2 separate regions of the Homo sapiens genome follow, and region 1 is linked to region 2. The links come from fine-mapping of genetic effects on gene expression. Tissue or cell type: whole blood. Region 2 holds a variant in brackets; the other region holds the start of a gene. All regions are shown on one strand. Distances are between the middles of the regions.

Region 1 (10,051 bases), 29 kb before region 2:
TGATAGGCTTTTCTATTCTGTAATATTTGTTTCATGTGTTCGTTTATATCTCTGACTAAACAGTTAATCCCTCAGGTGCAAGACCCACATTTTGTGTTTCTTTTTGTATTTCACTTTGAGGAGAGTGTCCTGAACACTGTAAGGGTTTACTAATCTTTGCTGATTGATTTCCTTCCTAGGGCTGTGGAATATAAATTACATGACCATCTGTCTCTTCAATTTTCAACATCTCTGTGTGTGCATGTGTGTACATGTGCACGTATGTATAAGAGAGATCTGAGATTCAATAAATAATAAACTTGAGGAATGGAGTTCAGAGGCAGAAGAACCACAGAAACAAGTCAGCCTTATGTGGGTAGCCTCCCCTCCGTTTGTTGTGTATCAATTGGGGTTAATAACAATTTTTTTTTTTTGAGACCTGTCTCGCTCTGTCCCCTAGGCTGAAGTGCAGTGGCATGATCTCTGCTCACTGCAAGCTCCGCCTCCCGGGTTCACGCCATTCTCCGGCCTCAGCCTCCTGAGTAGCTGTGACTACAGGCGCCCACCACCATACCCGGCTATTTTTTCTGTATTTTTAGTAGAGATGGGGTTTCACCGTGTTAGCCAGGATGGTCTCGATCTCCTGATCTCATGATCCGCCCACCTCGGCCTCTCAAAGTGCTGGGATTACAGGCATGAGCCACTGTGCCTGGCCTATAACAATACTGATTCCAACCACCTCCCAGGATTACTGGGAACTTTGTAAGAGATAACATGTACTTAAAGTTCCTTATGATTATTATCCGGTTCACATGAAATGGGACCACAGAGGGGAGTGGAGAAGAGGCATTAAAACTAGTGTGTGAAGAAAGTATCATAGCTGACCCAACCCCACTGGCTTTGGTTCTACCTGCCTGGAGACAATACATTTTGTAGCACCAGGCTATTGAATTTCCATCCGATTCTAGGCAGCAGGCATCCTCCTCTTCATTTTCCTTCACCCACCCCAGCCAAATCCATCAGTTCCACCTCTGACTTCACAATACCTAAACCCATAACCTTCCTCCCTGCCCCACTCTCATCTTGGCTTAGGTCCTAGTCTTACCTTATAGCTTCTGCCTCTTTCTGCCTTTGGTCTCTGACCTCTTTCCCTCCCCATCCACATGGAGGGCAGTTATGGCCCTAAAAAAGCAAACGCGATTGTATAATTTCCTGCTTTGAGAATCTTGGGGCCAGGTGTGGTGCCTCATGTCTATAATCCCAGCACTTTGGGAAGCTGAGATGGGCGATCACTTGAGGTTAGGAGTTTGAGACCAGCCTGGCCAACATGTCAAAACCCTGTCTCTACTAAAAATATAAAAATTAGCTGGACATGGTGGTGAGTGCCTATAATTTCAGCTATTTGGGAGGCTGAGGCAGGAGAATCGCTTGAACCCAGGAGGCGGAGGTGGCAGTGAGCCGAGATTGTGCCACTGCACCCCAGCCTGGGCGATAGAGCAAGACCCTATCTAAAAAAAACAAAAAACAAACAACAAACAAACAAAGAATCTTTGTTAAATATCTAAGTCTATATATTTATGGTGTCTATATCTGAAGAGGGAAGCCCAGTTATGAGGCTGTTCCAGTCAGGTGAGAGATAACTGGGCATATGATCTAGGGTAGACAGAGAAATGGGAAAAGATTTGGGAAATAATATATAAAACTATAAACTCTATGTGTGTGTGTATTGTTACACAACATGTGAACAGTAGTCATCTCTAAGATTCTTCTATGAATTCATTCAATAAATGTTTATTGCATGTCTGCCATGCGTCAGGCACCATTTTAGGCACTGCAAACTTGAAGGAATGACAGACACAGACCCTGCTGTCTTTTAGCTTATCATCTATTGAGGAGAGGAAGAACATAGCGAAAATAAATAGGAAATCAACTAGGGCCAAGTGATAGTGACTTGGGGAACTATTTGAGATAAACTGGTCAAGGAAAGCCTGATGAGGTAGAAGGTGGGGACTTGACTCTGGAGGTGGGGGCTAAGACTCGGGACCAGACTCTAGATTAGAGTTCCAGATTTAACACCTAGAAGTCACTGCCCCTTTCCATGGCAATGACTCAACAACCCGTTACCAACCTTTTTCTAGAAATTTCTGTATAACCTGCCCCTTAATTTGCATGTTAACTAAAAGTGGGTAGAAATATGAGTGCAGAGCTGCCTCTGAGCTGCTACTCTGGGCACACGGCCTTATGGGGTAGCCCTGCTCTGCAAAGACCAGTGCCTCTGCTCCTGATGTACACTGCCACTTCAATATAAGCTGCTGTCTAATGCCACCTGCTTGCCCTTGAATTTTTTTTTTTTTTTGAAATGGAGTCTCTTTCTGTTGCCCAGGCTGGAGTGCAGTGGCGCGATCTCGGCTCACTGCAAGCTCCGCCTCCCGGGTTCACGCCATTCTCCTGCCTCAGCCTCCCGAGTAGCTGGGACTACAGGAGCCCGCCACCACGCCTAATTTTTTGTATTTTTTTTTTTTTTAGTAGAGATGGGGTTTCACCGTGTTAGCTAGGATGGTCTCGATCTCCTGACCTCGTGATCCGTCCACCTCAGCCTCCCAAAGTGCTGGGATTACAGGTGTGAGCCACCGCGCCCGGCATCCCTTGAATTCTTTACTGGGTGAAGCCAAAAATCTTCCCAGGCTAAGTCCAAATTTTGGGGCCTGCCTGCCCTGCATCATGAGGAGGTATCTGAGTGGAACGTCAATGAGGAGGAAGAATGAGTTGGAGACAGGCCTGGAGAAGAATATTCTAGATAGAAGGAAAAGGAAGAGCAAAGACCCTTGGGTGAGAAAGAGTTTGTATTTTTGAGGAAAGCATGCTAGTGTGAATGCCAAGCAGTATTCTGTGGGAAGATCTCAGGAGGTGTCTAAGGGCATGGAGATAAGTGGTCAGATGCACGGTCTGTTTTATAGGTGGAATTAACTGCTTGCTGATGGATTGACTGGCTGTGAGGGTGAGTGGCAAGAAGGAATCGAAGACGAGTTAGGGTGGATGGCGATGCCATTTGCTGAGACAACTGGGAAAGAAAAAGATTTGGGAAAAAAAGTTGAGTTCAGCTTTGGACATGTTAAGTGTGATATGCTAGTCACTTCAGTGGAGATGACAAATGGCAAGCTGGAGAAATAAGCCTGCAACTCCAGGAGAGGACCTCGCTGTAGATTTACTATGGTGAGTCATCAGCATGCATATGATATAACAGTCATGGGGCTAGGAAGTTAGTTTCTCCTCAGGGAGTTTGAAACTGTAACTAGTTCAGAGAAGAGGGTGGAGGGCAGCCCCGAATACCCCAGCATTTACCAATAGAGCAAACAGGGACTCAGGAGCCTGGGGAGTGAGGTTAGCCAGAAACCCTCAGAGTGGAGCACTGGTGCTCTTACTGAGAGAGGAAGGTGTGTCCAGATGGAGGATGTGATTAACTGTCCTCAACATCCCTGAGAGAAGGAGTAAGACAAGGGCAGGGAAGAGAAGAGAATGCAAGATTTGGCAACATGTAGGTCATTATGATGACTATGACAAAAGCAGTTTGAGCTCAATTCTGTGTGGAGTATAGGGAAGGAGGGTTGAGGACGTGCATTTAGAAGGGTACATAGTTCTCAAGAAGTTTTGCTGAGCACATCTGTAATCCCAGCTATTTGGGACGCTGAAGTGGGAGGACTGCTTGAGCCCAGGAGTTCAAGACCAGCCTGGGCAACATATCGAGTCCCTGCTTTAAAAAAAAAAAAAAGGAAGTTTTGCTGAGAGGCTAGATGGATTATGATTTTTGTTTATTTTTCCTGTTTATCCATATATTATTTTTCAACAATGAGTATTGATTACTTATATAATAATTTTAAGGCTGTACACATTGCAGACAGCACCCCACTGTTTGAAAAACTCCTCCTCAGTAGAACATGGCAGACCTTCATCTTCCTTCCCTGAACCTTTTCCAACCTTAGGCTTGCCATTCTCCACCAGTGCTAATGTCATGTCTCTTGAAATCTGTATTGAAGTCAGTATTTCATTCTTGCCAGTTTCCACTGTGTGTTTAAATTTGGAGTCTGGTGTCTAGCATTAGCTGGGGTTGGAGCTTCCACTCCTCTCAGCATTGGTAAGCCTCCTCACCCACCCCATCCCATGTCCAAGATCACCCAGTTACACACTTACCATCTACCCAGTTCATTCACATCATCAGTCCCAGAGCTGCAGAGATGCTCTTTTTCTACCTCCTACTTCTCTGGCTCTTAGAGAGGCAGCATGGGATAATGGGGCAAGCGAATAGGGCCTTAAAGTAGAGGGACAAGGGTTCTCTTCCCTATCTGCCACTTATTAGCTATGTGACCTCGTGTAAGTCTCTTTTCTTTTTGAGACAGGGTCTCCCTCTGTCACCTAGGCTGGAGTACAGTGGTATGATCATAGCTCACTGCAGCCTCGAACTCCTGGGCTCAAGCTATCCTTCCACCTTAGCCTTCTGAGCAGCAGGGACTACAGGCACATGCCACCATGTCCGGCTGATTTATTTATTTTTATTTGGGAAGATGGGGGTCTCACTATGTCGCCCAGGCTGGTCATGAACTCCTGGTCTCAAGCAACCCTCCAACCTTGGACTCCCAAAGTGCTGGGATTACAGGTGTGAGCCCTGGCCTTGCCTCAATTTCCTCATCTGTAAAACGGGGTTAGTGAAACTCACATCCTATCAGTGGTTTTGAGGATGGGCCGACTCTTGTATTGCCTGCTCTAGTACAATCAGCAGCTAAGGCGGCTCACTTTCCGGCCGTGCTACAATAGGTAAGAACTAGGATGCTTTAGACGTGTGACTGGGCAGTGGGAGCCCCTCACATGATCCCGAGATGCCAGACAGTGTCTCTCCGCACAGGGCGTGTGCTGGTCCAGAGGCCCGTTTTTCCAGTCGCCCCACACCCCGGGTCCGCGATCACGCTCCCCCCACCCATAGCCGAGCCTGACGCGGCGGTGGCTCATGCGCCTTTCCGTCCCAGCCTTTAGCCACGGACCACACGTCCCATCTCAGGCGCCCCGCCCCTCCCCCGCCCCCCGCCCCCGGCGCGCCTCCCCAGGCTGCCGGCTCCGGTGTCTGAGCGGCCGCGCCCGCGAGCCGTGAGCGATGATTGGCTGCGCCACGGCGGCGGGCGGTCCGTGGGCGCACACACCCTCCCCGCGCAGCCAATGGGCGTGCGCACGTCACTGATCCGGAGGCCCGCGGGCCGGCAGCCCCTCAATAAGCCACATTGTTGCATGAAACTCCGGCGCAGGAGTCCCGGGCTGCCGCTGGCAACATCGTGTCACCCAGCTAAGAAAATCCGCGGGCCCGAGCCACGCGCCTGTGAATCGGAGAGGTCCCACTGCCCGAGTGGAGCCGGGCTGAGATTCTTCTCAAGTTGAGCCTCAGTGATCCTGTGGCCGAAGTTAGCGCCTTGACGTGGGACAACCGGACACGTCGCCAGGAGAGAACTGAGGCGCCTTCTAGCAGTTGTGACGCCAAAATCACGTCTCCGGAGACCCGCGCCCTCCGCCAGCCGGGCGCACCCTCGCCGGTAGCCTTCTTTGTGCGCCGTCCGGACTCCCAGCTCCCGGCCCGGCAGCCGAGCCCCAGCACAAAGCAGTCGGACCGCGCCGCCCGCCTCCCCTCTCGCGTCTCCGCCTCGGTTTCCCAACTCTGCGCCGTCGGGCCGCGGCAGGATGATTGCCTCGCATCTGCTTGCCTACTTCTTCACGGAGCTCAACCATGACCAAGTGCAGAAGGTAAGTCAGCGCGGGCGGGGCGGCAGGCTGGGCTCTGGCAAAGTGGTCTGGCCTCCATCAGTCTCTTCCTCGACCCTGCGGGGACCCGCTTCCTCCCTACTCCGGGCCTGGGAGCGGAAAAAGTTTGGGCAGCCGGGACACTCCTGGGCGCCAGGAGCCACGTCCGCTAAGCACAGCCGGCGAGTGCGCGCGGGCGGGGAGCCGAGGTCGCGCTCCGCCGGGCGCCCTCCCTCCCTGAGCTCCGGCACGCGCTCACGCTCTCTCCCCCAGTCCCTTTTTCCCTGTTACTGGAGGGGCGGGTCACCCCGCAGGTAGTCAGGGATTGCTGCGCCCACGTGGGAGGGAGCCCCCTTCTGCAGCGCGAGTTCCGGCGAGAGCACGTGGAGAGAATCGTGGCTGCGGGAGGCTGCTCCGCTGCCGCGTGGGGCCGCCGGGGGCCGTCCGCGCTCGCGGACCGCGTGTAGGAGACGAGCGGTTCCCTTCTCCTTCCCCGCGGCCCTGCGGGGGTGGGCTCGAGGAGAAGCTGACCCGGGAAGGAGTAGGAAAGGGGCAGAGGAACTCCGCCCGCCGCGCCCCCTCCCCGGAACTGTGGCGCCCGGAACTGAGGCTCGGCGAGGGGCGTCCCCCATTAACCCCCGCCCCTCCAAATCAGCCTCGGGACCGCCCAGCCTCGTGTCCTCAGGATCTGCCTCTGAGTAAGGGGAGGACTTTGGTTGTTACTTTCTGGTTTGCCCTAAAAGTTACTCGGAGAGGCCAACGCGCCGCGTTCCTGGATTACTTGAGATTCTTGAGATTTATGTCCTTCCGAAAACGAGCTTTTTTTTCCTTAAGCCTCGACCTGTCTGTTCCCACCTGGCTCCGCAGCTCCCTATGGCTGAGCGCTCACCGCGGCCGGGTCATTTACATAAGAAAGAGCCTCAGGCCAAGCCGGGAAGCTCTCATTCCCCGCCTCGGGGTATGGGGGTGGGGATGGGGCCGGGGCCGGGGACGGGCAGGGCCAGGGGCGCGCTCAGAATTGAGTTTCTGAAATGCCCGGGATTAGGGGATTGGCTCCTGGCCCGGGCCTGGGCTACGATTTGAGGTAGGGGACAAGTTGGGAGGGGATTAGCTGGAGGGAGGTTGTTTTAAGAGCTGTGAGGCAACGGAGCGTTGCTCAGTTACATACTTGGAATTTCAATATCTGATGGGAACACATTTTTGGGAAAATGTCTTGCCATTACCGTTCTGTGCGACAACCTGCTCATATTCCCATTCTGGCGGTCCCGAGGGCATAGGAGGCATATTAATGTAGTGATGGCGCGTGAACCTCCAAGAAAAGCAGAAGTTACCCAGCCTCAAGTCTGGAGGAGCGAGCAGAGGCGGTTGATTTACTTGGGTTTTACTGTTTGTAAATGGCTGTTATTCTCTAATTCCTGGGATGTGGCTCTGCACCTTGATTCAGTTTACTTAAAAACGTGCCTTTGATTTGAGCTGGCAGGATCTTGGTAACTTCTCAACTTCTAAGAACTCTTGGGGAAGGCTATCATCTCTTGGCAAGTCCTAAAATACACAGTGGAGCGTCATTAATCTCAGGGAGTTCTCCTTTGGGTATTACCCCAGGACATTTGAATCCTTGCATAAATTTACTCTTCCTCAATCCAGAGGAGGGCACCAGGGTTGGAACCCCGTTGGAGTTATACCACTCTCAATCTTGGAATGGGGGTCATCTCTCTTCCCCCAGAGTGGAACGGGAATTAACCAGGGTATCTGGAAATGAGTTGTAATCTCTGTCTTGTGGTTTATTAACCATAGCACCCTGAGCCTCTTTGGACAGCCCGTTTCTCTTTGTGAAATGCAATAATAACAGTAGGCTTGTCCACTTTATGGAGTTGCGATTATTAAGCGCTGCAGTGTGCAACTGTCATTCCTGTAGGTTTTCTCTACCCTTGCAGCCACCTGTCAGTTTGAGAAGTGTCCCTGAAGACCCTTGGGTGTATTTCCTCTAAACTACCAATAGGGGCAGAATTGAATCAGGCCTTTAACTCAGTAATTGTCAGAACCTGGGATTTGACTCCCAGCTTAGGTGAGCGAAGCTGTTTGATTCCAGTGGCAGTTACATAGAAAGCAGAGACTCAGAGTATCTTGGAACCATCTTTCTGAGCTGCCATTGGAAAGAAGAATTAAGAGAGAAGAATGAAAATTTAGTATAACTTTAGAGTCTTTTGAAAAGACCTTTTGATTTGGACCCTTCTGAAATCCCCTTGTGATAAGATAATCTTACATATTCTGGGTTGTAGTCTGAGGACGTGGAAGGCTTGGGTTCACCTGCCCAACGAGGTCACTTGTCGTCTCCTGATGGACAAGCCCAGTGTTTTGGGGCATTAGAGATGAGAATCAGGGTTATTTCCTCACTTTTGCCAATTGGAACTCAGGAGCGACTGCAGAGCACCTACTGTGTACCTGGCACTGTTCTAAGCTCTTAGGTATGTCAGCTTATTAACATTCAAATCAGCCCCATGAGGTGAAGACTGATTGTTATTAGCATCCCTGTTTAACTGAGGCCCAGGGGTAACTTGCCCAAGGTCTCCAGCTTTTCTGTACGAGCTGGGAATCGAAGCCATGCATTTGGCTTTAGAGCACCATGCTCTTGAGCACATACTTGCCTGTCTCTGGGGAATGTGAGCGGGCTCCTGGCCCGGGCCTCTGCCCACTCCTGGCTGCTGGTAGCACCCCCACCCATCATGACCACAGATGGAACTAGCTCTTCTGTTGGTTTGATCAGTGGCACCAGTACCCTCTGGCTACTCCAGCTGAGAGTCCTGGATTCATTTTCATCAACTCTCTAACTCTGTCAACTGGTCTCTTGGTTACTTTGGAGGCCTGCTAAGGGTGTCCCTAAAACTCTTTCTGGAGCCAGACTGGATCATTTCAGGAGCTCTCTACAGCTCTTAATTGCCTCCCGCTTCTACCCCCCAGCTTAGCCTCATCTTCCTCTCCATCCTTTCATTCCTCTGTCCTGCCTGTTCACACTAGGTCCTTTTGCCCTTGTCTTTTTTTTTTTTTTTTTTTTTTGAGACACAGTTTCACTCTGTCACCAGGCTGGAGTGCAGTGGCGCTATCTCTGCTTAGTGCAACCTCTGCCTCCCAGGTTCAAGCGATTCTCCTGCCTCAGCCTCCTGAGTAGTTGGGATTACAGGCGTGCGCCACCATGCCCAGCTATTTTTTGTATTTTTAGTAGAGACAGGGTTTCACCATGTTGGCCAGGATGGTCTCGATCTCCTTACCTTGTGATCCACCTGCCTCAGCCTCCCGTAGTGTTGGGATTACAGGCGTGAGCCACCGCACGAGGCCTGCCCTTGCCATTTTTGTGGCCCTGAACTCTGCTTGGCTTCTTTCCACTTAACCCCTTCCAGCTCAAATGCAGTTTACTGTCTTAATTTTCTTTCTGCTTCCTTCTCCCCCTCCTGTGTGCCAACATTAGTGTGTTTGAACCTTGCATGACATTTGTTTCATTCCACCATCTGTTAGAGTTGATGGTTTTCAGTTTGGGTTCCTTCCTCAGGGCAGGGAGAATCTTGGCTGTTAGGTTTGTCGCTGCAGTTCCTGGCCACTGGTGAGGTGCTCAGTGAGTACAAGAGTAAAGGAGGAGACCTTTCTGGAGAAAGAAGCTAAACCAGGGCTGCAGGAAGTGGAGGAGCTGGGCAGGGCCAGCTAGTCTTAGGCTAAAGGGATGGTATATGGGTGGACACTTGGAGGGGTAGTTCGCAGTTATCTCTTCATCCAAAGCATGACCTGAGGCCAAAGCATGACCTGAGGCCGGTCCTGAGGAGGGAGAGAGAAAGGGAGGAGAGTTTCCTGTCCTTCAGCAATCAAGACTGTGTGTCCTGCCTATGGAGAGATGGAAGATTCTTTCTATTTTTTTTTTTTTTTTTTTGAGACGGAGTCTCGCTCTGTCGCCCAGGCTGGAGTGCAGTGGCGCAATCTCAGCTCACTGCAAACTCCACCTCCCGGGTTCACGCCATTCTCCTGCCTCAGCCTCCCGAGTAGCTGGGACTACAGGCGCCTGCCACCATGCCCGGGTATTTTTTTGTATTTTTAGTAGAGACGAGGTTTCACCGTGTTATCCAGGATGGTCTCAATCTCCTGACCTCGTGATCTGCCTGACTCCGCCTCCCAAAGTGGTGGGATTACAGGAGTGAGCCACCGCGCCTGGCTGATTCTTTCTATTGATTGAGATAAGTTAGTATACAAGATGCAGGATTTTGTCATTTAAGAATGGAGAATCAGGGTTAACCATAGAGATAAAATGAAG
Region 2 (10,051 bases):
GTGTGGGGTGAGAGGTGAGAATCAGAATTATAGGTTCAAATGGGTTTGAATTCAAGCTGTGTGCTTCAGAGCGATTTATGATGTGATCCTCTATTTCCTCATTTGTGAAAAGGGGAAACTTCAGGGGGATCGGTTTTCTGAGAATTAAGGGAGAATCAGATATGTGACTTTCTCACATGTGTTACAAACACTCCTGCAGCCACAAACCACCACTGCAAAAGGCACTCTCATTGCCAAATTTACTAAGAAAAGGTGTGTAAGACTCCCAGGTTTTAATTTTGGAAGATTGGCATCAAGGGAGCAGGTGTGAGGGTTCATCCCCATCACCAGGGGCCCTGCATTTTGGAGTGAAGACCAGGCCCCAGCTCTTATACCAGCTCCAATTATCTAATTGTAATCAAAGTCCTATTAGAAAATGTGGAGAAACCAGAAAGTTTCAGGCCATTTATTTGTGGTGGAGGCCTCCCCATCACGGCTTATGGGCTCTTGTGTGAGAAGGCAGGGAATGTCAGTAGCCACTGAACCCCGTAGGGGTGAAATGTTCAAGGTAAATCGTGAAGTACCTGTGCTTCATAGGTTGTGTGGCCTACACAGTGTGAAGAAACACAGTTGGCATAATTAAAAGTGCAATAGACATAAACGGTCCAGGAATGTCTTACTCAATGACTGAATTTGGTGTCAGCCAGAATACATTAAAAATGGTCTCTATTTGTCGTTTTGCTTCTTTCCCAAACAGTTTTAAGAAGTTGAAAGAATTCTATAGTGGTCATCTATATTTTACTTGGTTTGCTTTATCAACCCCCCAATCCTTCTATCCATCAGTCCAGCTTGTTATAATTGATGCATTACAAAACATAAATTGCTGAGAAAGTATAGTAAATACTAATACTGAACTCTAGTTACTATGTATGCTGAAGTTTTAGGGTTCAGACGTATACTTACATAGTAACTAGAGTTCAATATTTGCTGTATTTTCTTGTGATGTAAGATCTAGATGAAGTGAAATAAATCTTAAGAGTATTATCTGATAAAAAAATAAATAGAAGGCCGGGCATGGTGTCTCATGCCTGCAATCCCAGCACTTTGGGAGGCTGAGGCGGGCAGATCACAAGGTCAGGAGATCGAGATCATCCTGGCTAACACGGTGAAACCCTGTCTCTACTAAAAATACAAAAAATTAGCCAGGCGTGGTGGCAGGCGGCTGAAGCAGGAAGAATGGTGTGAACCCGGGAGGCAGAGCATTCCAGCCTGGGCCACAGAGCGAGACTCCATCTCAAAAAAAAAGAGTATTATCTGATGAATTGACAAATACACCTGTTTAATACAACCTCCATCAGAAAAGGGAATGCTTATACACTGTTGGTGGGAATGTAAATAAGTACATCCTCTATGGAAAACAGTATGGAGATTTCTCAAAGAACTAAAAATAGAACTGCCATTCCATCCAGCAATCTCACTATTGAGTATCTACCCAAAGGAAAAGAAATCATACCAAAAAGATGCCTGCACTTGTATGTTTATCACAGCACCATTCACAATAGCAAAGATGTGGAGTCGATGCCCATCAATGGACAGATGATTGGATAAAGAAACTGTGGTATATATACATAATAGAATACTGTTCAGTCTTAAAATAGAATGAAATAATGTATTTTGCAGCATCATGGATGGAACTGGAGGCTGTTATTTTAAGTGAAACAGCTCCAAAACAGACAAATACCGCACGTTTTCACTTATAAGTGGGAGCTAAACAGTGTGTCCACATGGACATAGAAAGTGGAATGATAGACCATGGAGACTTGGAAGGGTGAGGGTAGGAGGGTGGGGGGCATGAGGGTAGGAGGGTGGGGGGTGGTGTGGATGATGAGAAATTACTTAACGGATGTAGTGGGTGTTGGATACACTAAAAGCCCTCACTTCACCATTGTGCAGTATATCCATGTAACAAAATTATGTTTGCACCTCATAAATTTAAACAACTAAAAAAAACCTCCATCAAGATACAGAACATTACCATCACCCCAGAAAGTTACCTTGAGCCCCTTCCCAGTCAATCCCTGTACCTGATCCCCCCAGAGGCAATCACATTCTACTATTTTCCACATATGTGAGTTTTGCCTGTTCCAGAACTTCACATATAAATCGACTCACACAGTATTTGTTTTTTATGCAAGTCTTTTTTTATTTGTCATAATGTGGGATTTATCTGTGTTGTGTCTATCAGTGTCTCGTTCCTTTTGGCTGCTGATTCCATGGTATGATTAGAATCTGATATGAATATTGATGGACACCCGGGCAGTTTCCAGTTTTTGGCTATTTGAGTAAAGCTGCTATGAACATTATTGCACAAGCCCTTTTGTGGACACGTTTTTAGTTCCTTGTATAAACAACTAGGAGTGGAATTACTGGGTCATTCATAGAATTTGGTATATGTTTAATTTTTAGAAACTGCCAGACATTTCCCCCAAATTGTTGAACCATTTATACTCCCACTAATAATGTATGAGAGCTCTGCCTGCTCCATATCCTCAATAGCATTTGTTGTCTGTATGTCCTTGTTTCTTTTTTTCAGTGGAGAGTTAATTAAAGAAAGCATTCATTTGCGTTTGCTAGGAAACACACCATCTTGACCTCTCTGTAGGCAGCCCTAATCTGTGCCACAACCCTGCGTGTGACTGTGGTACCAGCCCTAACGCAGTTCTGTCAGGGGCCCCACCACACACATAGGGGCCACACATAGGGGCCTGGCTTTCAGAGGACAGTTCCATTTTAAAAGGGAATGCAGGGGTCGGGCACGGTGGCTTACGCCTGTAATCCTAACACTTTGGGAGGCCAAGGTGGGTGGATCACTTGAGGTCAGGACCAGCCTGGCCAACATGTTGAAACCCCATCTCTACTAAAAATATAAAAAATTAGCCGGTTGTGGTGGCATGGACCTGTAATCCCAGCTACTGGGGGGCTGAGACACGAGAATCGCTTGAATCTGGGAGGCAGAGGTTGCAGTGAGCTGAGATCATGCTGCTGCACTCCAGCCTGGGCGACAGAGTGAGACTCCGAAAAAAAAAAAAAGGGAATGCAGGAAGAATTGATAGCATTTAATGAGCACCCATGGTGTCTGTACTAGGCCATTTACATAAATCTGTTTTACTCTCCACAAAAACTTTACAAGAGAGTCATTCTCACTTTAAAAATGAGGCAACCAAGGCTAAAAAAGGATTGATGGCTGCCAAGGTCACCTGTGGGCAGATGGTGACAGTTGGGATGTAAGCATAGATAGTCCTGACTCCACGGCCATAAGATTCACAGTTTACATTGGCTTGTACTGCTGAACCAAAGTTTCTAGGGAAAATCAGATGATTATCTTTTTAAATGGATCCTAAATACGAGTTGGCTTTGTATCATTCCAATAAGAAGCTCAAGTACAACCCAACTGAAAATGTGCCAGCCGCATGTTCTAACTTAGAAATGAAGTAACTGTGGTGCCTTTATCACCCTTGTCTTGGCAAGATCGTTTGGTTATAACTATGCCTTATGAGACAGAGTGAGGGTAAGGCAGTGTCAGATCGATCATTTGACTCTTCTTCACCTCGGAATTGTGAATTATGTTCACAGGTAAGTATACCTCCATCCTCTAGCCAGACTTAAACCCTCTAGAGAGCAGGGAACCATGATGCTGATGGTGACGGTGATGATGATGATGATAAAAATTGTAGACATCGTTAGTGCCAGGTACTGTGCTGAACGCTGTGTTTGAGCTATCTCATCATTTCTTACAGTCATCCAGTGGTAGGTACGCTGAACTTCACTTTACAGAAAAAGGCAATAGATTTGGAGCAATTAGGCAACTTGCCCAAAGTCACAGTGAGCAAGTGGCAGCATTGGGATTGGAACTTGGCCAGCCAAATTGCTAATGCCTGGGCTTTTAAGCACACCACCAGTGGCACATTGGTGCTGTGCTGCTAGCACAATGTGTGGATTCTTCTCTTACTAACCTAGGCCTAGCTGTTCAGCTCATTCAACAGTCCTCTCCGAGGCTTGGTCCTCTGTGCAGCAGCAGTGTGCTAAGCTGCCTCGTGCCCTTT[A/G]AAGAGTGAAAGTTGTGCTGGGGAGATAAGGCCCATGTAGACAAAACAATTAGAGATATCGGGCCATATAATGCAAGCACATGATGTGATAAAGGGAGACCGGGCTGGTGATACGTTGCATGGAAGCTGGTTAAACCTGAAGGAAGCCCTTATCTTGGTTGCTCTGCATTATATTAACAACTGTACAGCGGAGACATACATCCAGAGCTAGCACACAGCAAGTTAATTGGGGTACTTACGTAGTCCAGGCGATATAAATTGAAGATTGTACTGATAGATAGCCTCAGTACAGCAGATGGCACTTACATTGTCAGGCGTTGTGCCAAACGCCTTACACTTCCTTGCACTGAATCTTGACAAGGTGCGTGTGTGTATGTGTGCGTGTATATGTGTGTGTTTTCCTGTGTTCTTGTTCTGGGTTGTGGAGGGAGGTGCTGACTAGAAGGAGGTTATCGTTACCCTTTTAAAACAGATGATGAAATCTGAGTGTCAGATTTCTAATAAATTGCCCAAAGCCACATGGCTAATGCATGTTAGAGTGGGATTTGAACCCAGGTCTGCCTGCCTAAAAAGCTGAACATGCTCAGAGCTTACACAATATTGAAACATAATCATGTTTTAACCCTTTGAAGAGTGGTTTCACATCTGTGGGGCTAATTACACCTCTCTGTGACTGGCACGTATTTTGAGCTTAAGAAACACTTCCTGGGTAAAAAGAGCACCAGAGTGGTGCATTCCAAGAGGTGTCCTAGGAGCTTTAGGGTGCCAGTCATGTGTTTTACGTGTTCCACACCCCTCCCTTCAGTTGGAGCAGCTCTGTTTTTCTCTATTTTACGTTGTGGCATTTGGCCCACCAATTTTATTTGGAAATAAGCATTCTGTTGCTTAAAATGGTTTGAAAACAAATGATGTAGAAGATCAGATCACTCCATTCCTAGTCTGTACCAGACACCAGCGTTAACTGTGATTCAGTGCCTTTAATGACACGGAGTATTGAATACTTCTGTATGGCTGAGCTCTTGAATGGTGGCCGGCATTGCATTGTAATGGAGTAATTGGAATCCTGGGGTTTAAAAAGAGGCTGCCAGGTGTGGTAGTGATCATGGCGATTCCGGGTACATGGAAAATACGTGCCTTGAGACCTGTGTCTTGCTACATTACCTGCTTAGGACTTGGAGATGTATCTTTTCGGTCCTCGTTTCATTTGGAGTATATGCCATACATTCTCAGAGCAGTCCACTGTTGTGTGCTAGCAGGTGCTTGAAAACTAAAGGAAAAAAACAAGATCCCCTCAACCCAGAGTCACCCCATAGAGGATGATTGGAATGTTCAGTGCAGTTACCTGGGGCCACTGGAAATGATATTGTAGGGCAGAAAGGGCAGGTCCCTTTAGGGGCATTAAGTTATAAATATAGGGCTGGTTCAGGAACTGAATGTGAAAGTATGCGTTTGTGACTTTGACCCACCTCCAAGTTTACGGCTGCATGCCTCAGGCATTGAGTGACAAGGAAGAGCCAGAGGCTCTAAGGTTGGATCAAATACAGTCCAGTGTTCTGATTTGCCTGAGCCTCTCCCAGTTTTGGCATTGAAAGTCCCATGTCATAGGAAACCCCTCCATCCTGGGCAAACTGGGATGGTTGGCCACCCTACATGGCCCTGGAGCTCATGCCCTCACTGCTGCTCAGCTCAACTGTGGCAGCAGCCCTTGAGCTGCTTCCTTGTGCTATCCCAGCCCTCCACAGTGCCACTAGAGCCACTAGAGCCCTTTTGGAAACAGATCTGACCTTCTTAAGAACGAAAGAAAGTCCTTGGCAATGGTATTTGCTGTGCGTTTATAGCCATGTCACGTGAGCCCTATGTTGTAGCTACTCTGGACATGCCATTTTTTGGCACCCACAAATTAATGCCAACTTATAGTTATACCAAACCTCTGTCCTGCCTTACTGGACACCAGAGCATGCCACAAACCTCCATGGCCTTGACAGGGAGAAAGGGAACAAGTACCTTGATAGGATCTATTAACGGAGGAATAATTTACTGTGTTTCTTCTTTGTTGTTGTTGTCATTTGTTTGTTTTTTTTTTGAGACAGAGTCTGGCTCTATTGCCCAGGCTGGGGTACAGTGGCGAGATCTCAGTTCACTGCAACCTCCACTTCCTGGGTTCTAGTGATTCTCTTGCCTCAGCCTCCCAAGTAACTGGGATTACAGGGCTACGCCACCATGCCCGGCAAATTTTTGTATTATTAGTAGAGACAGGGTTTCACCATGTTGACCAGGCTGGTCTCAAACTCCAGACCTCAAGTAATCTGCCCGCCTTGGCCTCCCAAAGTGCTGGGAATACAAGCATGAGCCACCACACCCAGCCTGTGTGTTTCTATATGTTCACATACAACATAGTCCATGTTTCACGTAAGCATCACAACCGCTGGGAGATGTCAGCATTATGAATCCTGTTCTACAGGTGAGGTGACATGCTCAGAGAGCCCTGTGATGTGCCCACACCACACAGGTAGTGAAGCTGCTGAGCTGGAATTCAAAATGAGGCCTGCCTACCTGTCTAAGGTCCAGTGCCTAACCACTGCTCTGGCATGGGCACGTAACCATGCGTGGGCGTTACGAGAGGGCCCGTCTCAGGATTGCCGAGTCACAGTGCTAGGCCTGCCTCAGATTCCGGACTTGGAAGGAATGCAGTCATTGGCTATGGTGGTTGTGGCTTCCTATGTGTGTGGAGGAGGGCTGCAGGGAGGAGGGGTGTCAGGGAATGTGTGTTCCAGAGGAGTCCTGTAAGCAAAGCAAGAGAGGACCTCCTTCCTGGGAACAGGTTCATCAGCAATACTTTATTATTTGTGTTTTCCCTTCAGTCCATCAGAAAATCCTGCACACCACCCGTTCTTGGTGGAGCTGTGGCCTCTGAGTCCAGCTGGGCTGGCCTCGGATGATGACCCACCAGGGGCAGCCTCGCCACCTCGGTCCCCTGTGGTCACTGATTCAGCGGATCGCGTGTATCCTGGACTTGAGAGTGCTGATGAGGCATTTCATCTTTGATATCCCTTTCATCCCTCATGACAGCCACCACGTTGTGTTTCCTAGAATTTGGCTGAGTTCCCACTACCAGGGAAGGCTCAGAGCTGGAGTGTCTGGAAAAGCCACCCATGGCCATGAGGCAGGCAGGCTAACCCCAGATGAGGGCGATGTTGCTGTAGCTAGCCCGCAGCTGTAGCTAGTGGTGGGGCCACCTCTAGTCACTGGGCAGGAAATGGAAAATTAGTGCCCCTAAGGAGGAATGCTGCCGTCACTGGAGCCAATTCCAGTGACTTTTCTTGGACAGGTTTCTGCAATCCCTTCTGCTTTCGTTGGCCTGGAAGAGTCAAGTGAGGCTGTGGGACAGGGTCTGCCTAGAGCCCGGAGAGAGAGTACCTAGTACTTACTGAGTGTGTCCTGAGTTCTTGGTCCTGCACCACACTTGTGTGTCTAATTTTTCCCCTCACAGCAACCCAATGAGATGCAATGTTCCCATTTTAGAGATGAAGCAGCTGAGGCTCAGAGGCTCAGGAACTTGCCTCTGCTAAATAGTGGCCGGGGTTCTGGAGCAGGTGATGTGGGCTCCAGAGCCAGTCTCCGTGTGTCACATCGCCTGACACACTTCTGGTTGTGTGGTCTCTGGTGGATGATGTCTACCGTTTTCCCTCTTGGGACCCTAGGGACTGTGGGTGGTGTTCTCAGGGAGCTGGTCAGATGTGACTTTTCTCAGGGCCTAAGTGCTGGAGGTGCTGAGTGCACCTGGGTGTAAAACAAACATTCTTGGGTTATTGAGTCAGAGCATCTCCCTGACCTCTGACCCATTCCGCTTCACTTCAGTGCTGTTCTCCCACCAGGAAAGGGGTTGAGTGTTGACAAACATGCCAATAAGTGAACCCCCCAGGAAATTGCCTTGTATCCTTGTATCCTTTGAGAAGGTTGTGGCAGGGCAGCAGAAGACTGGCGGTGCTGCTCGCAGTTGGGGCAGTCACCTGCGGATGCGCCTTGCCTGCTCCGCCAGCCCCTGCCCTGCTGCAGGTTCCGCGCCTCTTCAGCACTTTCATTCTGTGCCACACAATGGGGCCCTTCCCCATAGTCGGTGGTATTATCACCCAGGATCTGGATGTTTCCTGTCTACACTGCTGTTTCCTGGAGGGTAGGAACTGCACCTTCCCAGTGACACATGACAGTCTTCACCCATCTGTGTCTGTGGCTCCTTTCTGGAGTCTCACTCATCCTCTTTCCTGCTCCCCCACAGCTTTTCTGTTGCTTCAGTGGCCTGACTCTTGTCGTACATACATGCTCTGGGGTCAGCATTCTCTTGCATTCTGATAAGCCTGAGATCCTTTGAGGGGGCACCTGCTTGCCTTATTCACCAGGCCTCAATGTGTTGGTCCTCATTCCACTCCATCACATGACCCCTCTGGTCTTGCTGCAGGACATGGCCCTCATAATATGCAAACATTAGAAAGTAAATTTAGTACTGCAATTGCAATATGCAAACATAATATGCAAACATTAGAAAGTAAATTTAATACCGTGCTTGCAATTTGGTGTTCTGGGGGTATGAGGAACAGGATGGAGGCATGCACCCCTGGCATGGGGCTTGCTGAAAGCACTGAGGAGGTAGTCGGCTCTCAGGAGGGGGTGAGCACATCGTTGGATGCGAAACTGTCTTATATTGTTGATTGAATTATAAAAGTAATGTATATGCGACAGAATACTACTTAGCCATAAAAAGGAACAAATTAATGGCATTCGTAGCAACCTGGATGGGATTGGAGACCATTATTCTAAGTGAAGTAACTCTGGAATGGAAAACCAAACATCATATGTTCTCACTCATAATTGGGAACTAAGCTATGAGGATGCAAAAGCATAAGAATAATACAATTGACTTTGGAGACTCAGAGGAAAGGATGGGAAGGGAGTGAGGGATTAAAAAAAAAACAGCCCTGTGAGTTTCCAGTTTTAATAAAGCTCTGAGAATTAAAAAAATAATAATGTAAAGGTGTATAGCATGAAATTAGACTATATGTAATGTCTGTAGAGGAGTGAATCCCACTGGCCGCCCCTTACCCACAGATATTCCTGGAGGGACTTGGAGTTTTAAGTCTCGGTTGGTTCCTGGAAGAATTTTGCCCAAAATTAATAGTGGCCCTTCCTTTCTCTGCAGAACACGGAGAGTTCCTGGCTCTGGATCTTGGAGGGACCAACTTCCGTGTGCTTTGGGTGAAAGTAACGGACAATGGGCTCCAGAAGGTGGAGATGGAGAATCAGATCTATGCCATCCCTGAGGACATCATGCGAGGCAGTGGCACCCAGGTATGACCCTTCTCTCAGGGCAGCCCCTGGTGACAAAAAACTTCCTTGGCATGTTCTTTCTGTACTTTCTCCAGCCGCTCCCAGCGTGTGGATAGGCAGTCACCCAAGACACTCATGGATGCCAGCACAGCTGTAAGGGCTCCCTCTCAGCCGGAGCTCAGGCTGTTCTGGTTGTATTTTATACCCAACATGTACTCAGTATTAAAAGGAGTGACTAGAGAAGAAGCATGAAATCCAAGTAAGACGCTGTTCAGTGTTGTCACATCTCGGGCCTCAGGGCTTGGAAGAGGTCAAGCCCTCTGATTCGTGGTCGGCTGTTCCCTCTCCCACACAAGGCTCCCTCCTGGGAAAGGAATTTCTGACCATGAGTAGAACACGCTGGGGAGATATTTTTAGACTCATTATTTGTCTTTGGGGTGGCCTTGAGGTAAACCTGCTTTCCTTGTTATCATGCTGGGGTTGGAGAAGGGAGGCTGCATCCCTAGGGCTGTGGGCATTTGAGCTTTACCGAAGTTGTCACGTGGCTCCAGTATAACGTCAGGAGGGACACAGAGGGTAGCGGCCCTTCCACTGCCACTCCTATGCCTGCACCAAGCTGAGGTATTAAAGAGATTGGGTCCTGTATT

The links. PIP is the estimated chance that this variant, and not a neighbour inherited with it, causes the effect.
Region 1: HK2 starts here. The variant in region 2 is fine-mapped to the expression of HK2 in whole blood (INTERVAL, PIP 0.95).

Annotation. Positions count from the first base shown.
Region 1 is chr2:74,828,884-74,838,934 of GRCh38, forward strand. It overlaps HK2 (hexokinase 2), which reads left to right and starts at 5,244. Exons shown (of 18, transcript NM_000189.5): 1 at 5,244-5,760. The coding sequence starts at 5,698. It overlaps HK2-DT (HK2 divergent transcript), which reads right to left and starts at 5,104. Exons shown (of 1, transcript NR_185897.1): 1 at 3,772-5,104. RefSeq lists silencers at 4,736-4,805, 4,986-5,215, 6,136-6,385, 8,324-8,481 and enhancers at 5,962-6,838, 6,616-6,685, 7,998-8,513.
Region 2 is chr2:74,858,360-74,868,410 of GRCh38, forward strand. HK2 (hexokinase 2) reads left to right here. Exons shown (of 18, transcript NM_000189.5): 3 at 9,277-9,425. Among named protein-coding and RNA genes, the nearest start is that of HK2, 29 kb to the left of the region's middle. The variant A/G (reference allele first, on the strand shown) is at 4,083.